3 linked regions of the Homo sapiens genome follow. The protein of the gene in region 3 interacts with the protein of the main gene of each other region in a biochemical or structural test. Each region holds a gene or a part of one and is shown on either strand. Other genes may lie near its edges.

Region 1 (3,654 bases), on a different chromosome or scaffold from region 3:
CCAGGAAATGTAAAAGTAGAAACTAAAGTTTCTGCTTTCATTCTTCCATTACACAATTATATCTCACAAGGTGAACCAGTTCTTAGAATCAAAGCAACTATCACTTATTGAGCACTTAATATATACCAGGTACTTTGCAAGGCACTCAGTTTTAATCTTTTCAAAATTCTAAACGTCAGAAAACCCAACTTCTGGTGGTTAAGTGACTTTGTCGACAGTCACAATCTAAGTGACAGGGCCCTCTTCCCACTCTGCTATGCTGCCTCTGAAGAAGCCAGCTCCTTACTACTTTTCTGGAGTTCTACCAGGCATTTTCTGGCTTTTCGAAGCAAAGGTACTTCCCATGGCAATCCACCTCCCTAAATAGAGGAAAACAAGAACAAAGGCAAAACAAAAAACAAAAACAAAAAATACTGAGTGACCTTCTCCACACTCTAGAAACCCTGACAATGTCAAAAATTCCAGTCAAAATACAACTTTAACCTCACTCCTATGATAAAATCAGAAATACCAAAATAATACACAAGCCTATAACAGAACTTGCTCACCCTCAAAAGTCCTTCTAGAAAGTCCTAGGTAACTTCCCCCACTTTTAAAAATTTTAATCTTTAAAACTGTGGTGAAATAGACATAAAATTTACCACTCTTAAGCGTACAGCTCAGTGGCATTGAGTACAGTTACACTGTTGGAATCCATCCCAGGACTTTTTTATCTTCCCAAACTGAAACCTTTACCAAGGTCCCCAATTTCAAGGTCTCTTGGAAAACATCATTTCTTCCCTTCTATTAAGACAAAGCTAAGCTCCTTCCTCCCCTCTCTCCCAGTTTTGTGTGCACCCCTGGTGAGGAAAGGTGCAGCAATAATATAGAAGACAGCCAGTGCCACCATCTCAATTTAACCACAGGAGAGGGTGATGTTTGACCTTCTCCAAGAGCCAGTCTATGCTCTGCATTTCTACGAAGACTTTGCTTTTCTACCATCTTACTTCCTGTAGGCTTTCTGGAAAATCAAGGGAAGATGTGAGTATAATTGGGATAAATCATCTTTTAGTTTGTCAGTAAACAAATACTTTGTGCCAGGTATCATCCTGGGAAATAGGACAGAGTGGAAGACAAGACAAAGTTCCTATCTTCCATTAGATCTTACTTTAGATAGAAGAATAATTATACAGTAGTATACCTGTGGGGCAGGGGCAGGGGGTACCTCCCAAGTCCCCCAGTAGATGCTTGAAACCAAATACAGTACTGAGCCTATATGCAGCATATTTTTTCCTATACGTACATACCTATGAAAAAGTTTAGTTTATAACTTGGGCGCAGAAAGGGATTAACAACAATAACTAATACGGGTACCTGAACATAAACACTGCCATACCATGACAGTTGATCTGATAATCGAGACAGCTACTAAGTGACCTGCCATTAGTCACTCAGTACATATTACATATTAGTATGTCTTCACATATTAACATATTTATTAACAGTGGCTGTCTGGGTGATGGCATTACTGACACCTTATTTACTCCTTAACATTCCTCTATATCTTCTAATTTTTCTATAACATCTGCATTTTTTAAAAGTGAGAAAACAGTAACAAATATTATTCTATAAAATAATATCAACAAAGGTCAGGATTGTTCTAGCCAATTTCAACTCTTGGCCCTGTTTCAAGAGTGACAAAAATAGGGGTATTCTCCTATCAAAGTAGCCACCCTTCCTTGCCTCTATCATGCTCAGTACCATGTTCCCCTCTATCTGCCCTTTTTTCTTTCATATGTACAATAAACATGTATTAGGTACCAGGAAATCTCGAACTTCCTTGAACCATGAATATCATAGAGACCAACTTGCCCCATGCACATCAATTCAAAGCGGACAGACCACATACAAAATCATTAGCCACCTGTGGTTGAGAAACAAATTGTGGTTAACTTGATTAACTGAGAGAACAGTACAGGGTAGCTAACAAGTCTGGAAACGTAGGTGAACACATAATAGTTTACTGATATTGCATTATAATCCATGAGAAAATATCTTTGTTTCAAGACTTTATGGCCAATCTATAGAAAATCTAAAGTGAAAATCCAGTGGGCCTCATCAAAGATACACAGACTGCAAATAATGGGAAATGCTAATTAAAGCAACAATGAGGTATCATTACATACCTAGCAGAATGGCCAAAACCAGAACACCATCAACACCAAATGCTGGTGAGGATGTGGAGCAACAGGGATTCTCAATCACTGCTCGTGGAAATGCAAAATGGTACAGCCAACTCGAAAGACAGTTTGGCAGTTTCCTACAAAACTAAACATACTCTTACCATATGATCCAGCCATATGGTAAATACGCACTCTTTGGTATTTACCCAAAGGAGTTGAAAACTTATGTTCACACAAAAGCCTGCACACAGATGTTTATAGCAGTTTTATTCATAACTGTCAAAACTAGAAGCAACTAAGATGTCCTTCAGTCGGTGAATGAATAAATAAACCGTGGTATATCCAGAGAACAGAATATTACTGAGCACTAAAAAGAAATGAGCTAGCAAGCCATGAACACTTTAAATGCATTATTACTAAGTGAAAGAAGCCAGTTTGAAAAGGCCATATATACCGCATGATTCCAACTATCTGACAATCTGGAAAAGGCAAAACTATGGAGACAGTAAAAAGATCAGTGGTTGCCAGTGGCTAGGAGGGAGGGAGACAGCACAGAGAATTTTTTTTTTTTTTTTTTTTTGTTTTGAGATGGAATTTCGCTCCTTGCTCAGGCTGGAGTGCAGTGGCGTGGTCTCGGCTCACTGCAACCTCCGCCTTTAGGTTTCAAGCGATTCTCCTGCCTCAGCCTCCTGAGTAGCTGGGATTACAGGCGCATGCCACCATGCCAGGCTAATTTTTGTATTTTTAGTAGAGACGGGGTTTCACCATGTTGGCCAGGCTGGTCTCGAACTCCTAACCTCGTGATCTGCCCGCCTTGGCCTCCCAAAGTGCTGGGATTACAGGCGTGAGCCACCGTGCCCGGCCCGCACGGAGACTTTTTAAGGCAGTGAAACTACTCAGTGTGACAATATAATGGTGGATACAAGTCCTTGTAAATTTGTCCAAAACCATAGGATAAACAGCACCAAGAGTGAACTTGATTGTGAACGATGGCGTTTGGGTGATGATGACGTGTCAGTGTAGGTTCCTTTGTAAGAATGTACTACTCTGGTGCAGGATGTTGATAATGGGGGAGACTACGCACGTGTTGGGGGGCAGGTGGGATACAGGATGTCTCTGTACGTTCTTCTCAATTTTGGTTTGAACCTAAAACTGCTCTAAAAAATGAAGTCTAATTTAAAAACTGGGAAATAAGACTTAATAACTTCGGAAGCTGAACCTGGAGCTCCTGGCAGTATCCTTTCTAGCCCCCAGTCTGCCTCAAATTGGCTCTCTGAATGCATGTGCCAAATGCAGGGTTCACAGTCTGTGCTCAGGAACCCCTAAATGCTGATCAGCTTCCACAGACAACCAAGGACCTAAAGATCTCTTTTGAACACTTCTGCAAACAGTCTAGTAACTCTTACACTGAAATACTGACTTTTAATAAACTTGTGTCTTTTGCCAGCAATAAAATTGTGGGATAAAATTATTCTCTCCTTGTGACTGGTAA
Region 2 (3,059 bases), on a different chromosome or scaffold from region 3:
TTTTGTTTATCCACTCATTTTTTTATATATTATCTTTTTTTTTTACATATTATCTTTAATTTTTTATCCTATCTATTCATTTTTGTTTGTTTGTTTTAAGGCAGAGTCTTGCTCTGTCCGCCAGACTGGAGTGCAGTAGTGCAATCTCGGCTCACTGCAACCTCCACCTACCAGGTTCAAGCGATTCTCCTGCCTCAGCCTCCCGAGTAGCTGGGATTACAGGTGCATGCCACCACTCCCGACTAATTTTTGTATTTTTAGTGGAGACAGGGTTTCACCATGTTGCCCAGGGTGGTCTCAAACTCCTGACCTCAGGTGATCCACCCACCTTGGCCTCCCAAAGTGCTGGGATTACAAGCACGAGCCACCACACCCAGCCAAGATTTGAGCTTTGGATTCAAACTGAACAGAGGCTGGGTGTGGTGGCTCACGCCTGTAATCCCAGCATTTTGGGAGGCTGAGGTGGGAAGATCGCTTGAGACCAGGAGTTTGAGACCAGCCTGGGCAACATAGCAAGAACCCCATCTCTACAAAAAAATTAAAAATTGGTCGGACATGGTGGCATGAGGAGGCTGAGGTGGGAGGATCGCTTGAGACCAGGAGTTGGAGGCTGCAGTCAGCTATGATCACACCACTGCACTCCAGCCTGAGCAACCCTGCCTCTAAAAACAAACAAAAAATGGAATTGAACTGATCGGATGGCCTAGGAGGTGGGTTCTATTATTGTTCCCATTTCACAGATGAAGAAACTGACTTTGTCTGACTCCAAACATTCTGCTTATGCTCCATGCTGACAACCACTTTACAATGAATGAATCAACTGGAAAGAAAAGATTCATGAAGGGGTTCCCCTAAGAAGCTGGCACTCCCTGTGCCTCTGGAACACGGAGTCATTCTGCAGATGGGCTGGGTGAGGTCTCCAGCCCTGGAAACTGCACATTCCTCAGCTTCCCATTTCACCGAGGGCACTAGAGCTCACCCCACTGTTTGGTAGATACAGGGTGATGCTCTAAAATGAACCCACCATCCAAGTCTCTGCTTCCCCCTGAGCAAGAACAGGGGAGCCTGTGGCGTCCCGATGCGCGTCGGGCACTGGCTGAGCACTTCTCACGTGCTGACCTGTCTAATCCGCACCGCCAGCCTAGGAGCCCGTGAGATCATTGTCTCATTCCACAGATGAAGAAACTGAGGCTGAGAGAGGTGGGCTGACTTGCCTGAGATCGCCTGGTGGAAATGAACTCTGCTCGGGCCTCTTGGGGCCTCAGTGGCTCCAGAAATTGCAATGGGTAGACGACGCTGGAGCAGCAGGGGCCCCGAGCCAGTGGGGACAGTTCCGCCCTGCCATCCTGGCCCCACTGCCCCAGCCTCACCTGAAGCACCACCTGCGGTCAGGAGTGCCGTCCGAGCTCTTGCCCACGGTGACCATCTCCCCAGAGCGGAAGGCCTTCCTCAGGAATACGGGGAAGGAGCGCTCAATGTCCAGGATGGTGGTGGCCCACTGCGGGGAGGGAGGGTCAGGAGGGACATCGGTGAGCCTCACAGCCTGCGCCTGCCGCTCTGGTGGCAGAAATGAGACAACGGGCCAGGGTGGGCCCAGAACTAGGCATTTAGACTCCTACTCCCCACTAGACACAGGGTTTATAAACTCAAATACCCACAGGTGGCAGGCAGGAAAACAAATGGGTGAAACAGGATCAGGTGCAGAAAGGCTGCCGCCCAAGCCCTATCACACTTACACAGCAGTTGCCTCTCAGTGAGGGAGGGGTAGAGACTGGGGAGAACAGGGAGCAAATGCCCACGTGTAAGGGGGCAGCTGCCACTCACCCCACCTGAGGGCTGCCAGGCAGGAATCCGGACCCTGCACTGCCTGGAGCTTCCAACTTTTCAAGAAAAGCCAGAAATCTGGGTTTTCATAGGGAATCTCTTAATTTTTAAATTTTGCAGTTTTTTGTTGTTGTTGTTGTTTTTAATATAATGGTCTGATGCTGGGTGCAGTGGCTCACACCTGCAATCTCAGCACTTTAGGAGGCCAAGGCAGGTGGATAGCTTGAACTCAGAAGTTCAAGACCAGCCTGGGCAACATGGTGAAACCCCATCTTTACAAAAAATACAAAAATTAGCCGGGTGAGGTGGTGCACACCTTAGCCCCAGCTACTCGGGAGGCTGAGGACAGAGAATCACTTGAGCCTGGGAGGCAGAGGTTGCAGTGAGCCAAGATCACACCATTGCACTCCAGCCCACAGGATGCCCAGTTTGCATCCTGTGAGTAATGCCCAGTGGGGAAACTGAGGCCCAATGAAGTAAGCAATATAGATAAAGGTTAAGAGCAGGCCAGAGCTGTTTCCCTCAGACCCAGTCCTGGGAGGACAACCTTGGGCCCTTTTTTCTCACTGCACCATTTTCCTGAAATGCACAGTCAAGGTAAACACGGGTGCTGTATTCCTGGGCCGTGGGGCAGCACTGTTTATTAGGACACCAGGTTTGTAGGCTGCACCTGGCCTGGGAGGGCTGTGATCCCAGGGCCTGTTCTTTCCAGGATTGCATAGAAAGCTTTTGGTAAGTAAAAACTTTCTGCAGCTCCCCGGGCCAAGGCGGCCCCTGTCCCCATTGGTTTCTCCTCTAGGAAGCATGCTCACAGTTGCTAGAAAAAGACCCCCATGAGAATGCTGACATCCCTGTGCTGGAGTGCTAGAGCACAAAAGCTGCCCCTGGGCTCAGCGTGGGACCCCTGCTGAAACGCTGATGCCCACGGAGCACTTTCTGAGCCGGCAGAAGTCACTCAGTCATGCTAGGTGGAGCCGACTGTGTCCTGTGAGCTGGACCACAAGGAGAATCTGAGCCCACTGCTGGCAGCCAGGCAAGAAGCCACCTCAAAATTCACTAGGCAGCTCTGGGAAGTCAGCAGCAGCCTCTGATGCCCATTTTACCGACAGAGAAGTGGAGGGAGAATGAGAAGACACTGCTTGCTCAGAGTGGAAGGCCGAGGAAGCCAGTCGGGTGGGTCTCCTCGGAAGGACGAGGGTGGCTGGTAGAGTGGGGCTGGGGGCCCTGGGGCCTCA
Region 3 (3,654 bases):
AAATCACTTGAACCTGGGAGGCAGAGGTTTCAGTGAGCCGAGATCGCGCCAGTGCACTGCAGCCTGGGTAACAGAGTGAGACCCTGCTACAAAAAAAAAGAAAAGAACACTTAGAACAGAATCAGGCACGTGATGAGTGTTCTGGTAGTGCTAGAAGTGATGATTGTGATTCTAGTTATTACCTACCAGGAGTTCTGCTCAGCTCTGGAGCCATACATACTTGAGATGCAGGGATAGATGTAATTTCCTTACGGTTATTTGTCATTTGCCAAATATTTTATTCTTTTCAGCCTGTGACATTCTGGCCATTGATAAGTCCCTGACACCAGTCACCCTGGTCCTGGCAGAGGATGGCACCATAGTGGATGATGACGATTACTTTCTGTGTCTACCTTCCAATACTAAGTTTGTGGCATTGGCTAGTAATGAGAAATGGGCATACAACAATTCAGGTAAGAAACTCTAGCCATGTATAAAACGGCCTATGCAGTACAGCATCCATCATGATTACTTTCACTGCACAGACAATTGCCATTTGTCTGGCTTTTTAAGCATTTGTTCAACAGATATTTACTGAGCACTTTCTATGTGCCAGACATGGTGCTGAGTCCTGGGGATAAAGATGAATGAGGCCAGGCACGGTGGGCAGATCACCTGAGCTCAGGAGTTTGAGACCAGCCTGGCCAACATGGCGAAAGTCCATCTCTACTGAAAATACAAAAACTAGCTGAGCATGGTGGCAGGCACCTGTAATCCCAGATACTTGGGAGGCTGAGGCGGGAGAATTGCTTGAACCTGGGAGGTGGAGGTTGCAGTGAGCTGAGATTGTGCCACTGCACTCCAGCCTGGGCGACAGAACGAGACTCTGTCTCAAAAAAAAAAAAAAATAGATGAATGAGACATGGGCCCAGTTCTCAACTAACTCATGGACAGACAGCAACTGAAATGCAGCCTGGCAGGGAGCTCAGTGCTGCAGGCTGCAGTCCAGCTGTTGAGGTCTGGATCCTGGCTCTACCATTTACTAACCAGGTGACCTTGTGCAAATTACATAACTTCTCAGTGCCTTGTTGACATAATAATTATAGAACCTGTCCCCTAAGATTGTTGTAAAGATAATATAGTACATATCAAACCAGGGTTTCTCAATGACACTGCTGACATTTGGGGCTGGAGTTGTGAAGAGGATGCTTTGTGTATGATAGGACGTTTAGTAGCATCCTAGATGTTACGAACCTCCCCCCACAACTGTGATAACCAAGAATAAATGACTCCAGATATTGTCAGATGTCTCCTGGGGGGCAAAATTGCTCCCACTTGAGAACCACTGATATGAAGTGTTTAGATCTTACCTGGCACATAGTTAAGGACTCAATAATTGTTACCTGTCCCTGCCATCATCATCATCACAGGAGATAGAAAGGGGACTAACATTGGTGACCAAGGATCAAGAAGTGTCTTGAGAGGGGATTAGTTTTAGGGAGGGACTTAAAAAAAAAAAAAGTGTCCTGAAGTGTGCCACAAAATTGAGGAAGTCATCCTACAGCAGTGGCCCTACCAGCCACCTTTGTGCTCAGGCCTAAGGGACAGCAATCGATGGCTACAGCTCTGCCAGTTAAAGAAGGGACCAATCCCCAAGCACAGAGAAATGCTGGCACAAATGACCGTTTTCGTATAAAAAACAGGACACACCTGGACACACAGAAACCAGAAAGGGAAGTGTGATTGGATTCCTTGTAGGTGTGACCACACATTGGGTTTAAATGGCTTTTTCTATGGAAGAATACAGAGCCGTTGCACACAGAGATAAAGATGAAAGAGGGTCAGGCACGGTGGCTTATGCCTGTAATCCCAGCACTTTGGGAGACCGAGGTGGGCAGATCACTTGAAGTCAGGAGTTTGAGACCAGCCTGGCCAACATGGTGAAAGCCCGTCTCTACTAAAAATACCAAAATTAGCTGGTCATGGTGGTGGGCACCTGTAATCCCAGCTACTTGCAAGGCTGAGGCAGGAGAATCGCTTGAACTCGGGCAGTGGAGGTTGCAGTGAGCCAAGATCGTGCCACTGCACTCCAGCCTGGGCAACAGAGTGAGACTCTGTCTCAAAAAAAAAAAAAATGAAAGAAGAGGGAAAATCAAGGTCCTGGATGGATATTGACCCTCCTGTGAATCCTTGAGATAAGATGCTTCTTTCCCATTGAAATTAATCTAGATCCTCAAGAGGTCTGTGTGTGCTGGGGGAGGAGGTGAAAACAGCACTTCAGGTTGTTCTGTGACTGGCATTTTCTCCCATGTGTCAGATGGAGGTACAGCTTGGATTTCCCAAGAGTCCTTTGATGTAGATGAAACAGACAGCGGGGCAGGGTTGAAGTGGAAGAATGTGGCCAGGCAGCTGAAAGAAGATCTGTCCAGCATCATCCTCCTATCAGAGGAGGACCTCCAGGTAAAGCCTCCTCCACAACCTGCAACAATGTTCATCCAGCCTCTGCCCCCCGCCCCAGCACCTTCTTAGCTTCCATACTTGCCATAGCAATTTCTTTGTTTTAATCTTAATTTTTAAATAATTCTTAAATTACAACTAAGATTTTTCATCTTCTCATTCTCACCTAGAGTAATTTTTCAACCCTCGTCACGAAGCAGAATTACCTGTGGATTTTTTTTTTTTTTTTTTTTTTTTTTTGAGACACAGTCTTACTCTGTCGCCCAGGCTGGAGTGCAGTGGTGCAATCTCAGCTCACTGCAGTCTCCACCTCCCGGGTTCAAGCAATTCTCCTGTCTCAGCGTCCCAGGTAGCTGGAATTACAGGTGCACACCAACACGCCTGGCTAATTTTGGTATTTTTAGTAGAGACAGCGTTTCATCATGTTGGCCAGGCTGCTCCTGAGTTCAAGTGATCCACCTGCCTCAGCCTCCCAAAGTGCTGAGATTATAGGCGTGAGCCACCGTGCCCGGCCAGATTTTTTTTTTAATACAAATGCCTGGGATCCACCCTAAACCTAGTTAGGTGGACGCTGGGGTCAGGGATGCCCTGCTAGAGAATGTAGCGTTGGAGTAGATGGCTTCACATCCCAGCGCTGTCACCACGACTTTGAGCCAGTAGCTTAGCTTCTCTCCTTGTGTTTTCTCTCTAGTAAGATTGGGATAGGCCAGGTGCAGTGGCTCACGCCTGTAATCTCAGCACTTTGGGAGGCCGAGGCGGGCAGATCACGAGGTCAGGAGATCGAGACCATCCTGGCTAACATGGTAAAACCCCATCTCTACTAAAAATACAAAAAATTAGCCGGGCCTGGTGGTGTGCACCTGTACCTGTAGTCCCAGCTACTCGGGATGCTGAGGCAGAAGAATCGCCTGAACCCAGGAGGTGGAGCTTGCAGTGAGCCGAGATCGCACCACTGCACTCCAGCCTGGGTGACAGAGAGAGACTCCATCTCAAAAAGAAAAAAAAGATTGGGATAAAAACAGTATGTTTTCATTCAAAGAAAATTTCTCTTTGAGACAGGGTCTTGCTTTGTCACCCAGTGCAGTGGCATGATCATAGCTCACTGCATCCTCGACTTCCTGGGCTCAAGCCATCCTCCCACCTCAACCTCTCAGGTAGCTGAGACTGTAGGCTTGCACCACCACACTGCGCTATTTTTTCTTTTTTTTTTTTTTTAAT

The links.
Region 1: of the proteins of DFFA (region 3) and CASP3, one has a biochemical effect on the other in vitro, tested with the Homo sapiens proteins (one study listed by BioGRID).
Region 2: the proteins of DFFA (region 3) and TRPV4 interact in a test that uses a peptide from one of them, tested with the Homo sapiens proteins (one large-scale study listed by BioGRID).

Annotation. Positions count from the first base shown.
Region 1 is NC_000004.12:184,639,309-184,642,962, forward strand, and holds part of CASP3 (caspase-3 isoform a preproprotein), read right to left. Parts: intron 1-3,654. UniProt on the Homo sapiens protein: Thiol protease that acts as a major effector caspase involved in the execution phase of apoptosis. Following cleavage and activation by initiator caspases (CASP8, CASP9 and/or CASP10), mediates execution of apoptosis by catalyzing cleavage of many proteins.
Region 2 is NC_000012.12:109,785,340-109,788,398, forward strand, and holds part of TRPV4 (transient receptor potential cation channel subfamily V member 4), read right to left. Parts: intron 1,558-3,059; coding exon of another isoform or gene 1,537-1,557; exon of another isoform or gene 1,499-1,536; coding exon 1,371-1,498; intron 1-1,370. UniProt on the Homo sapiens protein: Non-selective calcium permeant cation channel involved in osmotic sensitivity and mechanosensitivity. Activation by exposure to hypotonicity within the physiological range exhibits an outward rectification.
Region 3 is NC_000001.11:10,465,975-10,469,628, reverse strand, and holds part of DFFA (DNA fragmentation factor subunit alpha), read left to right. Parts: intron 1-290; coding exon 291-452; intron 453-2,296; coding exon 2,297-2,439; intron 2,440-3,654. UniProt on the Homo sapiens protein: Inhibitor of the caspase-activated DNase (DFF40).